Linked DNA regions of Homo sapiens. The protein of the gene in region 1 interacts with the protein of each later gene in a pairwise test. Each region holds a gene or a part of one and is shown in the gene's direction. Other genes may lie near its edges.

Region 1 (7,227 bases):
CCGTGTTAGCCAGGATGGTCTCGATCTCCTGACCTTGTGATCCGCCCACCTCGGCCTCTCAAAGTGCTGGGATTACAGGCGTGAGCCACCACGCCCGCCCCCCTCCATCTGAGTTGCTTAGCTCAGGCCATACACTATGGGGCCATCTTTAACTCCTCCCTCTCTACCCATCCCTCTCCCAACTTCCAATCTACAAACAAATTCTATTGTCTCAACCTCCAAAACACATGCAGAAGTCAACCTCTTACCCACCCTGAGCTAATCCACTGGCATCTCCTTGCTGGCTTGTTCAACAGTCTCTTAGCTGGTCTCGCTGCCTCTGCCCTTGCCCCTCTGCAGTACATTCTCAAAAGAGATGCCAGAGCAAGCCTGTTGAACACAGTCTATCATGTGACTCCTCCTCTAGAATGAAACCTTCCAAACGGCTGCCATCCTGTTCAGAATAAACACTGAGTCCTCACTATGAGCTGCCATCCTGTTCAGAATAAACACCGAGTCCTCACTATGAGCTGGCAAGGCCCCACTACACTGAGCCTAAGTCACCTTTCTATCCTCAGCTCCTGCTTCTCCCACCGCCACCCGCTGCACCTGAGCCACACCAGGCTCTTGCTACCTGCCCTTCCTCCTACACTGCTTTAAGTCTTCGTCAAAACTTAAACCTTCAGAGTGAGACCCTTCCTGGCCATCCTGGCTACAATTCCAATCCTCCTCATCCTTGGCCCAAATCACCATCCCCCAGGAGCCACGCACTTCGCTGCTAATGCTGGTCTCATGTCTAGAACGTTAGCTACCCCAGGGCAATGGTTTTCATCTATGTTGTTACTTCTCTAGTCCTAGTGTCTAGAACAATGCCTAACACATATCTGACAGTCAGTAACAAACAGTGTATTGAATTAATGACTATCAGAACAGAAACTGTATTACACATGGTCAAGGAAGGCAGAATCTTCAAGAACTCTAGAGATCAAAGGAGGGCAGATCATTAATCATCTCTGAAAGGAAATACAGCATCAAGTCAGAAGGAAAATTCCCCATGATATCCTACAAACATCATATACGTTTTTATCAGCATAAACAGAGACCTTTAAATGCAAACACCTTTTCTACTCTGATCCCACATGCAGCAACATCCAGTGTCCTATTAAAGTATCACCATGTCAACACAGTTGTCAAGGGAAAATAAAAGATAAAATAAAGTATCGCCATGTAACAACATAACTGTTCTCCCAACTTGAACATGATGATTTTCACATTTTAGGTCATATGATCGACACTGAACCGTGTTTTTGACCTTAGCCAAGTCTCTCATATGATACTCCAGCCTCAAGGTATCGAAATGATAGAGGCAGGAGGCAGACAAATCCTAGGCAGAGAGGGGTGGGTCACCAGTGAAACCCAACCTTCAAGCCACAGTTTAAAGCCTGAAAGCCAAGCGACGAGTCTCGGATAAATCCACAGACTGGATTGCGAACCTCTCTTCCTGTTTGGTGCGCTTTCCTCTAATTAATCCCCACCCTTCACCTATTTTACATATACCTACTTTTCTCTAATTGGTTTATTACACTGTTGTGCCCACCTTTGAGTAGTGACTTTGTTTTAACCTTTTTTGCATACTCACAGACAAATCAGCACACACTCCCCATTCTGAGCCTATAAAAGCCCTGGACCCAGCCACACCAAGGGAGACCACCCGACTTTGGGTGGAAGACCACCCTTGAGTCCCCTCTCTGCTGAGGGGTGTTTCATCACTCAATAAAACTATTCTCCACCCTCCTCACCCTTCGATTGTCAGTGTTAAGTGTAGTCTCATTCTTCTTGGACGTGGGACAAGAACTAGGGACCCAATGAATGCAAGTACAAAGAAGGCTGTAACACTGTGGCCCTGGGCCCTCTGCCGGCAAAGGGCAGCCACCCACTGTGACACCCCACGTGACAGGAGGCAGCAAAGGGAAGCAGCGGGGACGGAGCCAGCCCCAGAGCTATAGCCTGGAGCAGGGCAATGGGAGTAACAGGGCTGCTGACACTCTGCAACACCCCCTCTTGGGCTTCAGGGTTGTAAGCACCCCTGCTTGGGCGCCACTACCTTCCCCTTGTCTGGACACCAGAATCCACTGTCCCTTTGTCTGGACGCTGGAGTCCGCCGTGGGAGTTGCTTGCCACATGTCTAGCTGTAAGCTCTGCAGAGCCCACTCTGGTGCCTGCGCTTGAAACAGCTGGCGGGACCCGGCACTCACTCACCCACACACCCACTCCCGCCAGGGGCTGAGCATACAGTCATGGTGGCCATGGTATCCGTGCCATAGTGCAAACCAGGTGCCCACCGGTGGACCAAGTAGATGGGGTATCTCCTGCGGCGAGCCTGGACCCAAGCAAGGCCTGGGCAGGGGCCTCGCCAGCCGGAGGTCTCTGGCTGCCAGAGTGGCTGAGAAAAATCCTGCATCACAAACAATAACACCTAAAAAGATATAATACAACAGTTGTAAAATAGTAAACAACAAATAGTACACAGCTGCAAATAGTTCAACCGTGAATGACGGTTATTCTAAAAGACAAACTTCACAAGATATACACCTGGTCAACATGCTCCTTAGGGAGTCAGGGCTCCTGTTTCCTCCAGCCACCTACCACATTTAAGTGGTGAGCTGCTACAAATCATTTTAATAGATATTGGCAATACACATTACAGTTTTCCAACTCAGATCTTAATAAATTTATGTTGTAGCTACCAGAAAAATAAAAAGTAAAAACAATCCCATTCAGAATGACAGAATTAAACCAGATGAAAATCTTTCTTTACAGATGGGGGATACTTGGTAAAAGGCAAATCAGTTCCCACAAAGAATGAATGAGCTAAAACTTCTGTGTAAAAATATTTCTAGGGCTACTGGGCTAGCGATGGGTTTGGCGCTGACTTAAAATAATCTTGCTAGCAAAAATGGAGCGGAAGCATGAAAGGATAGGAAAAAAACCAACACTCCCTATACACACACACACACACTCCTTCTCTTTCTCTCTCTCTTAGGACCCCAAGAAACTAAGACCCGATGATACAAATTCACTGTTTCTCTTTCTCGTCACGGAAAAGCAGCTTGGAGAATCTACTGGTTACTAAATTGAAGACAAAAACAAAAAAGATACGTATACTGTGATGAACACGTCACGTTTCTCTCCTCCAACCTACCAATAACTTCATAAAAGTTAAAGAGCTTCCATCCCTTCACGCTCAGCTGCGGAAAGGCTACGCTTTCGCCCGCCGCTCGCGTCCCCGGCCCGGACCGCGGCCGCCCCGTTCGCCGCCGCGCCTCTCCCCGCCCGGCAGGCTCCGCCGCCCTCCACGGCCGACCTGGCGCAAGGGCCTGTGCAGCCACAACCTCCGGAGCGCTCCGGACGGGACCGGAAAAGCAGAAGCTCCAGCGCAACCGACGGCGGGTTCCGCGGCGCAGTGCGCCGCCGTCCCCCTCCCGCTCCCACCGCCCACCACCCACCAACACCGCCCCGCGCTCCCGCAGCGCCCGCCGCCCCGGCCCAGCCTGGCCCGCACCGGCGTGCCCCGAGGCGAGTCGCGGCAGCCCGACCCGAGCAGGGGAGGCCAATGATAAGGCGAGCACCTCCTGCGGAAAGACCGACCCCCGGCAACTCCTCACCTGCGTCCATCTTCCCAGTCCGGCCGCCGACTGACCCGAGCGGCGTCGCTCCGACGGGCCAGCAACGCGACGCGGCGACGGGACGCCGCGGGGGCCAATAGGTGTGCCGGCGCAGGCGGCGAAGACGATACGGCGCGCGAGCGGAAATACGCGGGAGCCGCCATTTTGGCGTACGGCCGGGCCGACGCGAGCCCCGGGGCGCCCTGCGGGCGGCATGGGGTCGTGTCGTGGGACGACGGCTGGTTCTGCTGTCCGACGGGACACTGTGTGCCATGGGTGGCGCTTCCTCCTCTTAGAGGACCCAGGAGCAGTTGTCGAGGCGGCAGAGGCGAGCTCTGTCCCCGTCCGAGCAGCCATCTTGCGGTACGGACGTGCTCGGCGCGCCCATGTCGCGGTACGGACTTGCCCCGCCGGGGCGACTCCCCCGCCCGTCTGCCCGCCTGCCGACGGACGCTGCGAGGGGCCTGCGGCGCCCCGCTGGTCCGAAGACGCCCGAACCCGCGGCTGGCGAGGACGCGGGCGGGGGCTGGGGCGGGGGCGGGCCCGCTGCGGGCGCCTGCGCCTCCATCTTGCCGTACGGCGCGGACGCCGCGGGCCGGCCCACGTCCCGAGCCGTGTCGCCGCCGCGCTCCCTCCCTCGGGGCGGTCCGCGGGCGGGCGGGCGGCTAGGGCCGGGGCCTGGCTGCGCGGCTGGGCCAAGGCCCGCGATGGTGATCTGCTGTGCGGCCGTGAACTGCTCCAACCGGCAGGGAAAGGGCGAGAAGCGCGCCGTCTCCTTCCACAGGTACGCGGGCCCCGGGCCGCCACGCCCCCGCCCCGACCCGGCCCTGCGGGGAAACTGAGGCCCCGCGGCCGGCCCGAACGCGGGGGGCGGGGGCGCCGGGCCTCGGCGGCCGGGGCGCGGGGGAGCGGGCGTGGGCGCTGTGTGACCTTGGCCCGGCCGCCGTCTCTGGGCCGGGCGCCTCGGGCAGCGCAGCCGCCCCCACCCCGGCCGCCTGGGTCCGCCCTGCGCGCGATCGATCCGGCCGGCGCCTAGGCTTCAGAAGCCGCACGCTCTGGAAGCGCAGGTCCTGGGCCGATTGTCCTGCTCGGCCGCGACTGCTGACTCTCCGGACCGCGCGGGCCGTCGGCCTGGATGTCTGCGAGCAGGAGCGACCGGGCAGACGCGACCTGCGCCTCCGTAGCTGACAGCCCCCGAGAGGGCTTTCCGGGACTGGGCCCCCGAGCCCAGGACGCGGGTACGCGCGGAGAGTCTACGGGACGGCCGGCTGGGGACGGCATCCTCCTGCGCTCCCTTAGAGCCTGGCCCGGGGCTCTCGGCCGCTTCCCACGTGGGCCCCCGCGGCAGGGCCCAAACCCCTCTAAGGCCTTGTGAGTTCAGCCTATTTCAGTGAGATTTCTGCGGATTACACGCGGGAGGCACCAGAACCGCGAACAGACTTTAAAAACCACTTTGGAGATGTTTCTGTTTTATGTTGCATGGTGTTATTTAAGTTTTAAAGACGGGAATGGCACGTGTTATTTATAGGGTTATTGAAAGTTCACAGTAGTTTGCTGTAAGTCTTAAATCATTACAATGTATTATAAGAATTAGTAACATTAGATTATTTCACAAGTCAGCCAGCGCACTTTCTTGACAATTTCCTTCAGAGCTTGTGTCCTAGAAGTTTTGTTATTGTTTTTTGAAAACGAGGCAACGTGTTGCAACGGTCTAACATGGTATGGGAGGAAAGGACATCGGAATTGGGGGTGGGGGGGTACCTTTGCAGTTGGCCTCACAGTGTTCAGAAAGGAGGTTAGAAGGTCCTGTTGCTTAGAACGGCCCAGTCCATCCTGTTAGGATTTGTCCTGGTCCACACTGGCCTCAGGTGGAGCAAATAGCAGTTAGAACTGACCACCCTGTCCCTTATGTGCACATTAGGGCCTGGTTTTTTTTTCTTTTTTTCTCTTTTTTTTGAGAAGGAGTCTCCCTCTGTCGCCCAGGCTGGAGTGCATTGGTGCGATCTCGGCTCACTGCAACCCCCGCTCCTGGGTTCAAGCTATTCTCCTGCTTCAGCCTCCCAAGTAGCTGGGATTACAGGCAAGCGCCACCACGCCTGTCTAATTTTTTTGTATTTTTAGTAGAGACAGGGTTTCACCATATTGGCCAGGCTGGTCTCGAACTCTGGCCTCAAAGTCCTGACCTCAAGTGATCCACCCGCCTCGGCCTCCCAAAGTGCTGGGATTACAGGCATAAGCCACCCCGCCCGGCCCAGGCCTATGTTCTTAAACACAGAGTTTGCCTTAATGAAGAAATGGTTATGAAGGATCTTTATTAGGTAATAAAGAAATGACTAAACATCCTATTCAGTATCTTCCTGCGCTGGTTGCTTTTTTCTCACCATTTTTAAATTATGGTATAATACATGTAACATGAAATTTACCATCCTAACTTTTTTTGGAGACAGAGTCCCACTCTGTCACCCAGGCTGGAGTGCAATGGTATGACCGTAGCTCACTGCAGCCTCAGCCTCCTGGACCCAAGTGGTCCTCCCATCTCAGCCTCCAGAGTAGCTGGGATCACAGGCATGAGCCACGGCTCCCAGCCTTTCCTACCGCTTTTTCAGTGTACAATTCATGGCAACAAATACATTCACGTTGTTGTGCAGCTGTCACTACCATCCACCTCCAGAATTATTTTTATTTTGTAAAGCGGAATCTCTGGACTCATTAAACATTAATACCCCAGTCCTCCTCTCCCTAGGCTCTGGGAACCCGCATTCTCCTGTCTCTATGAATTTGATTACTCTGAGTACCTCATGTGAGTGGTATCATGCAGTGTTTGTTTTTTTGCACCTGCCCTATTTCATTCAGTATAATGTCCTCAAGGATCATCTGAGTTGGTTGATTTTTTTTGAGGGGAGAAGACCGGGTTTCACTCTGTTCCCCAGGATGGGGAGCAGTGGTGCAGTCTTAGCTCACTGTAACTTCGAATTTCTGGGCTCAAAGAACCCTCAAGCCTCAGGCTCCCAAGTAACTGGAACTGCAGGTGAGCACCATTGTGCCCTGTCCCTGGGCTGGTTGACTTTTAAAAGGAGCATTTTTACTCCTGGAGGTGGGCATGCAACAGGAACACAGAACTGTAGCTCTGGAGTCTTCTGGAGGTCTCCAGATTCTCAGCTGCTTGCGCACAGCCAGGGCTGCCTCCATGCAGTCCTGACCTCTCACGCCCTAGTGTCTGTGGATGCTGGCCCTGGTTTTGGTACCCAGAGTCCTACCTTCCAGGCAAGTTGGGAGGGTTGGTTAGCAGTCAGCTTCTAGGAGCTATTTCCTGCTGTCCTGAGGCCATCCTGGCACTGTCTGTCAGCATCCTGTGTCCCCATTGGGCATTTACCACAGCCTGGGGAGCAGTTGGTTACCTTCTTTCCCATCCGCCCTACAGACTATAAGCTCTGTATGGGTAGACAACGGGTCTTTCAGATTTCTACTCCAGTAATAACTGCAGGTAGAAGATGTTCTTTAAATCTTTTTGAAGTATTTTTTTAAGTGGATGAAGTCAATACGGCTTAGGGTGCGTGCAAAAATACTTGTTTTGCTTTTACAG
Region 2 (7,510 bases), on another chromosome or scaffold:
ACGGAATCTCGCTCTGTAGCCCAGGCTGGAGTGCAGTGGCACAATCTCGGCTCTCTGCAACCTCTGCCTCCCAGGCTCAAGCGATTCTTCTGCCTCAGCCTCCTGAGTAGCTGGGATTACAGGCGTGTACCACCACACCCAGCTAATTTTTGTATTTTTAGTAGAGACGGGGTTTCACCATGTTGGTCAGGCTGGTCTTGAACTCCTGACCTCGTGATCCGCCCACCTCCACCTCCCAAAGTGCTGGGATTACAGGCGTGAGCCACCGCGCCCGGCCCCAGCTAAGTACCTTTTCTGTAGCCAGCACTGGGGAAACTCCCAGGGAGAGGAATGGGGAATTCCTGGGATCATGGAGAGACACTCCCAAGGGCTAGGAAAGCCTTCCATCTCTGCCTGGCATGCTTCTGAATAGGGGAGATGGCTCCAGCTTGTCCAGAGAGAGGAATCTTCCTAAAGTAGAACTACAGGTAGGAGAAAAGTACTTTTGGGGGACCCATGCTGGGCACCCTCCAGGGGGGTGGAGGGGAAGAGTAGGCACATCCCCCATCCCTTTAGTCTCAGCCCCTGGGAACCCACCCTGTCCCCTATCATCTCTTTTCAGATGGCCTTCTCAGACAGCCACAGAAGGTCTGTGGGCAGGACCTGGGCAGAGTGGGATGGGTTAAGATCCGATGGGGTGAAGGGCTGAGGCCAGGCCCTTAACTACCATCACTGGACATTTGGTTCCACCTAGTGGCCTCTGATGTTCCAACCGTTCTCACAGAGACCGGCACAAGGGGGTGCCCTTTCAGGCATTCAGTGTTTATTGAGCACCTACTCTGTGTGAGGCCAAATGTGAGGTTTGATGGAGGCATATCCATGAGCATAAAGAGGCTGGGCACGGTAGCTCACGCCTGTAATCCCACCATTTTGGGAGGCTGAGGTGGGTGGATTGCTTGAGCTCAGGAGGTCTAGACCAGCCTAGGTGATACAGGCAGACCCTATGTCTACCAAAAAAAACACAAAAGGCTGGGCATGGTGGCATGTGCCTGTGGGCCCAGCTACTTGGGAGGCTGAGGTGGGAGGATCAGTTGAGCCCAGGAGGAGTTGAGGCTGCAGTGAGCCTAGATCCTGCCACTGCACTCCAATCTGGGTGACAGAGCGAGACCCTGTCTCTGAAATAAAATAAAATAAAATAAAATAAAATAAAATAAAATAAAATAAGAAGCAGAAGGTCAGGCAGGGTGTGTGCACCTGTAGTCCTAGCTACTCTGGAGGCTGAGGTGGAAGGATTGCTTGATCCCAGGAGTTCAAGTCTGCAGTGAGTATGATCATGTCACTGTGCTCTAGCCTGGGCAATAGAGCAGGACTCTGTCTCTGAATTTTTTTTTTTTTAAAGAGCAGAGAACTAACATTTATTCTGCTCACACGTACCAGCCCTGGGCTTGGGTCCATACTGTATTGGCACGTGCCTGTGGAGCACTGAGGATCCCACAGCAGAGACAGGACTGCCAAGTGCCTGGCCTGGTCACTTGGCTTCTCTGGACTTCCGTTTCCACTCCTGAAAAATAAGAAGGTTGGTGTAGATTATCTCTAGCATCTCTTCCTATGTTAGAATTCTGTGAAGTCACACAAAGGAGTGGTTAAGAGTTTCAGCTTTGGGCTGGGTGAGGTGGCTCACACCTGTATTCCCAGAACTTTGGGAGGCTGAGGCGGGTAAATCACTCGAGCTCAGGAGTTTGAGATCAGCCTGGGCAACATGGCAAAAAGCCTGTCTCTACTAAAAATACAAAAATTAGTCAGGTGTGGTGGTGCACATCTGTGGTCCCAGCTACTCTGGAGGCTGAGGTGGGAAGATTGTTTGAGCCTGGGAGGCTGAGGTTGCCGTGAGCCAAGATCATGCCACTGCACTCCAGCCAGGGCAACAGAGCCAGACCCTGTCTCAAAAAAAAAAGAGTTTTAGCTTTGGAGTTGGACAAACCTACATTTGGATCCCAGCTGTCATTCACTAGCTGTGTGTTCTTAGGAAAGTTGCCTTACCTTTCAGAGTCTAGGGTAATAATATAAAGATTAAGTGACAATTATAGCAAGCATTTAGCACAGAGTGTGGCACTTGGTGAGTGGTGATGCTGCAGATGATGGATGATTCTAGTTACCCAAATCCCCAAATAGCACACCTCTCATCTCCTCTCCTCTCCCCTCCCCTCCCCTCCCCCAACTTCCTTTCCTTTTCTCTTTCTTTTTTGATGGAATCTTGCTCTGTCGCCCAGGCTGGAGTACATTGGCCGCAATCTCAGCTCACTGCAACCTCCGCCTTCCGGGTTCAAGTGATTCTCCTGCCTCAGCCTTCTAAATAGCTGGGATTACAGGTGCCTGCCACCACGCGTGGCTAATTTTTTTTTTTTTGTATTTTTAGTAGAGACGGGGGTTTCACCATGTTGGTCAGGCTGGTCTTGAACTCCTGACCTTGTGATCTGCCCACCTCAGCCTCCCAAAGTGCTGGGATTACACACATGAGCCACTGCGTCTGGCCCTTTTTTTTTTTTTTTTTTTTTTTGAGACAGAGTCTTGCTCTGTTGCCCAGGCTGGAGTGCAGTGGCATGATCTCGGATCACTGCAACCTCTGCCTCCTGGGTTCAAGTGATTCTGATGCCCTAGCCTCCCGAGTAGCTGGGATTACAGGTGTGCACTGCCACATCTGTCCAATTTTTGTATTTTTAGTAGAGATGGGGTTTCACCATGTTGTCTGGGCTGGTGAAGGTGGTAGGTTTCAATGACAGCAGCATAATGCCGTGGGAGTTGGGAGGAGGGAATGATCTGACTCACTCTGGGGCAGGTCTTCGAGTTAATTCTCCAGTGGATTCTCCTAGGCATCGTGTGGTCCGTCCTCAGAACTGTGCCTCCCTAATGTGGCTGAGTGGATTCACTACCCACCCCATGCTTGGGCTCTGCCTCGACCTCTCCCTCCCATGCACAGCCAAAGCCGCTCAAAGCTGCTGGTTTTCCTTGACTCTGGGCTTCTCTCCATCACCCACTGCCTCCCAACAGAACCCCCGGTCTCTGCATCCTCCTGTTCCAGATTGCTAGGACCCCAGCTGCCCATCAGGGACCCCTCTAAAATAACTTAGTTGAGTCATTGTTTGCCTACTTAACAACCTGTGATATTCTCCATTGCTTATGGGATAAAATCTAAACTCCTTGGCTTGGCATACAAAGTCCTTTACAGTCCAGTTCCTCCTCTGCTGATATTTCCAAGCTCTTTGTCCCAAGTGCCCATGCTCTCTCCCCACCTCCCTTGCACTCTAGTCCCCTCGACAGACTTGCTCTCTTGCGGGAACATCACCCACTTCCACATCACCCAGCCTTTGTGTGTGCTGTGTCTTCTGCCTAGAGCACCCTCCCTTCCCGTAGTCTGTCAGGCAAGCTCACAGCCATTTCTCGGGATCCATTCAAATGTCACCTCGCTTGGGAGGCCTTCCAGATCCCCCCCAGATTTTCTTGGGTTCCCTCAGCATCATGACCTTTGCCTTTCATAGCATCTATCATGCTGAACTTACACATTTACTTCCTTCTCTGGACTGAAAGCTCATTGGTGGCAGAGATCCTTTACATTTTTGTATTCTGAGTGTCTGGAACACAACACGTAGTCAGTAAAGACGTGTTATTGCAAATGTCCACACATCTTGTGTCTGGCTCAGAATATGGTGTTTTAGGCCGGGTGCGGTGGCTCCCAGCACTTTGGGAGGCTGAGGCAGGCGGATCACCTGAGGTTAGGAGTTTGAGACCAGCCTGGTCAACACGGTGAAACCCTGTCTCTACTAAAAATACAAAAATTAGCCGGGTATGGTGGCGGGCACTACAGTAACTGTAATCCCAGTTACTCAGGGGGCTGAGGCAGGAGAATCACTTGAACCCAGGAGGCGGAGGCTGCAGTGAGCCAAGACCGCGCCATTGCACTCCAGCCTGGGCAACCGAAAAAAAAAAAAAAATTAGAAATCTCTGGAGTCAGATCTGGGTTGTGGGCCTTGCTCTGCCTTGTATCAACTATGTGGCAAGTGACTGACCTCTACAAACCTCAGATTTGTGATCTGAGATTAATCAAGGGTTAATTGAGAAACCAGCTGAGTGCTAGCACCTAGTAAGTGTTCAGTAAGTGACAGTGATGGTTATTGCTGAGTTTTGAATGGAGGAGCTGCCTTAGAATCAGGAGACCTGCGCCCCAGTTCCCATTCTGCCCCACCTCCCTGTGTCACCCTAGGCAGGCCACATTTCCTCCCTAGTTTCAGGGGCCTGAAGCAGATGCCCTCTTAGGGCCCCACAGCCTGACATGCTGTAGGGCCTGAGAAGCGGCGTCGTGGAGGACGAGATGTGTGAGGGCAGCAAAGAGTGCTATGTGTCCAGCAGAGGGCCCTGCCCGGCCTGTGGCCGGAGGCTGGGAGGGAGGGCAGGCGAGTGATGCCAGACGCCTGACTGGAGGCGGATCCAGCCGGCCAGCTGCCTCTCTGGAGCCCAGCTCTTGGGCCCCCTGCACTCACCTGCTCTTCCTGGGCTGGCTGTCTCCTGCTCATCCAGCCATGCGGTGGCTGTGGCCCCTGGCTGTCTCTCTTGCTGTGATTTTGGCTGTGGGGCTAAGCAGGGTCTCTGGGGGTGCCCCCCTGCACCTGGGCAGGCACAGAGCCGAGACCCAGGAGCAGCAGAGCCGATCCAAGAGGGGCACCGAGGATGAGGAGGCCAAGGGCGTGCAGCAGTATGTGCCTGAGGAGTGGGCGGAGTACCCCCGGCCCATTCACCCTGCTGGCCTGCAGCCAACCAAGCCCTTGGTGGCCACCAGCCCTAACCCCGGCAAGGATGGGGGCACCCCAGACAGTGGGCAGGAACTGAGGGGCAATCTGACAGGAGCACCAGGGCAGAGGCTACAGATCCAGAACCCCCTGTATCCGGTGACCGAGAGCTCCTACAGTGCCTATGCCATCATGCTTCTGGCGCTGGTGGTGTTTGCGGTGGGCATTGTGGGCAACCTGTCGGTCATGTGCATCGTGTGGCACAGCTACTACCTGAAGAGTGCCTGGAACTCCATCCTTGCCAGCCTGGCCCTCTGGGATTTTCTGGTCCTCTTTTTCTGCCTCCCTATTGTCATCTTCAACGAGATCACCAAGCAGAGGCTACTGGGTGACGTTTCTTGTCGTGCCGTGCCCTTCATGGAGGTGAGTGTGTGTTCTGTTTGAGCTCTGCTGGGAGGCTGCAATCCAGGGAAGGGACTCAAAGTCTCCATCAGGTCTTTGGAAATGGAATTTGTGGGTGTGCAAAACCTGAGTCTTGGAGCTCTGACTTGCTCCTCCTTTACCTTGGAGAAGGAGACAAATACGGTATTGGTTTCTGGTTGCTCTCAAGAGAAGTAGGCAGGCCAGGGGGACAGGCGGGTGTGTGGGGCCCCTGGGTTCCAGCCCCAGCCTGATCTTCTGCTTCGGGAGCAACCTCAAGGCAGGCCTTTGCCACTTTCTCCAGACCCTAAGCTGCCCTCTCCCTTCCTCAGCCCTTCTCCCCTGTCCCACCCAAGATACCTCTGTCCTTTGTTGTGACTCCTCTTCTTTCCTCTGTACCCCCTGCCGCTGCCCTGCTCCCACAGCTTCCTTCGCTGCTCCTCCGTCTCCTGCCTCCTGAAGGAGTGCCTGAAGGGAGAGCCCAATTTCCTTCACACCCCTCTGGATCAAGTCAGCATCCACTCCATGAGAATACAAGCACCAGAAGCAAAAGACCGCTCCGTTCTTCCCTCCCTGCTGGGATTCTCATTGTTATCGTTGTCATTTCCATCAGCAACTTCCTAGATCCTCTCTGAAAGGGATACCTGGTTCTGGGCACTGGAACTAATGGGGGGCTCTAGTCTTAGCTCTGCCACTGACATACTGGGCGTCACTGGGCAGGTTGCATTACCTCTCCAATTTCTTTATCTCCCAACCAGGGCGGGTAGACCAGATGGTCCTTCCAGCTGGCCTGTTTCACAGTTCTAAAGTATACCACTATGCCCTTACTTCTGGTAGCGTCTACGATAAGTCCATGGGTGTCAAAGGATATGTAGAGCATAGAGAGACAACTTAAAACACTGCAGAAACATACTGATGTGTGCATTTATGCAAGACACAGCAAGGCCACCCTCTCTCTCTCTGTAAGACAAAATAAGCAAACAGTCTTTCAAATTTTGGCTGCATGGAGTGTAATGGAGTGACTGTGGTCTCCCTGTGAAGCTGCTGTTCCTTCGTGAATGATGCTGCATGACAAGGGGGACTTGCCTGGCCGGAGAAGGGCTCAGGATCAGCATTACGGACACAGGTCCTATTCCAAGGTCTGTCCCCACCTCACCATGTAACAATGATGATGTCATAGTTGGACAGACTCCCTGTGTCTCAGCAGTGGGTACAGTCCTTTCCTGTCCTTCCCAACCCAGGGAGACTGACTAACAGTGGTACAAAGTTACTCCACCCTGAAAGAAGACCCTGTGCCAGGCACAGTGGCTCATGCCTATAATCCCAGCACTTTGGGAGGCCGAGGCAGGTGGATCACTTGAGGTCAGGAGTTCGAGACCAGCCTGGCCAACATGGTGAAGCCCCATCTCTACTAAAAATAAAAAATTAGCCGGGTGTGGTGGCACGCACCTGCAGTCCCAGGTACTCAGGAGGCTGAGGCAGGAGAATCGCTTGAACTTGGCAGGCAGAGGTTGCAGTGAGCCAAGATTGCGCAGCCTGGGTGACAGAGTGAAATTCTGTCTCAAAAAAAAAAAAAAAAAAAAAAAAGACCCTGCAACTGGAGAGAGGCTTTGCATTCTTAGTTATCATCTTGTGCTCACGACCCAGGTGAGCTGTGCATGCTTAGACACAGGACTCTGAAATTGAGCAGACTAGATTAGAAACTGGGCTTTTCCCATCACTAGCTGTGTGATTTGGTAGATTACTTTAACTACCTAAATCTCAATTTCCTCATTGGTAAATTGGGGATAATAATAATAATAGCTATCTGGGTGAATTCTTAAGGGATTAAATGGGTGATGTCTATACAGTGCTTAGAATTAAAATGGTATAGAGGAGAAGGGGAAAAGGGCAGACACATACGACCTCTTGTTTGCATGTGGCTGGTAGGTCAATGAACACCTGGCCCTACCTGACTGTGGGTCCTGACATATGTAATGTCCTCCTGGGCCAGCCCCTCCACACCTCCTGGAGGATAGAGATGATCCACAGGCTGGTAGACAGTCTTCCTTCTAGGCTGGGTGGTGGGACAGGTGGAGGGAGAAAACACTCTTTCTTTTTTTGAGACAGAGTCTCACTCTGTCACCCACAACACCCTTCTTCTTTATTTGAGACGGAGTCTCATTCTGTCACCCAGAGTGGAATGCCGTGGTGTAATCTCAGCTCATTGCAACCTCCGCCTCCCAGGTTCAAACAATCCTCCCACCTCAGCCTCCCAAGTAGCTGGTACCGCAGGCGTGTGGTACCACGCCCGGCTAATTTTTGTATTTTTGGTAGAGACAGGGTTTCAT

Evidence for each region. Proteins that work in one complex are often made in the same cells at the same time.
Region 2: the proteins of THAP4 (region 1) and GPR37L1 interact in binary tests that used the Homo sapiens proteins (3 or more experiments, as listed by UniProt).

Annotation. Positions count from the first base shown.
Region 1 is NC_000002.12:241,634,142-241,641,368, reverse strand, and holds the start of THAP4 (peroxynitrite isomerase THAP4), read left to right. Parts: upstream 1-4,210; 5' UTR 4,211-4,351; coding exon 4,352-4,428; intron 4,429-7,227. Other genes in the region: cysteine protease ATG4B, read right to left, coding at 3,645-3,654. UniProt on the Homo sapiens protein: Heme-binding protein able to scavenge peroxynitrite and to protect free L-tyrosine against peroxynitrite-mediated nitration, by acting as a peroxynitrite isomerase that converts peroxynitrite to nitrate.
Region 2 is NC_000001.11:202,118,411-202,125,920, forward strand, and holds the start of GPR37L1 (G-protein coupled receptor 37-like 1 precursor), read left to right. Parts: upstream 1-4,506; 5' UTR 4,507-4,553; coding exon 4,554-5,183; exon of another isoform or gene 5,184-5,323; intron 5,324-5,540; exon of another isoform or gene 5,541-5,648; intron 5,649-7,131; exon of another isoform or gene 7,132-7,308; intron 7,309-7,510. UniProt on the Homo sapiens protein: G-protein coupled receptor. Has been shown to bind the neuroprotective and glioprotective factor prosaposin (PSAP), leading to endocytosis followed by an ERK phosphorylation cascade. However, other studies have shown that prosaposin does not increase activity.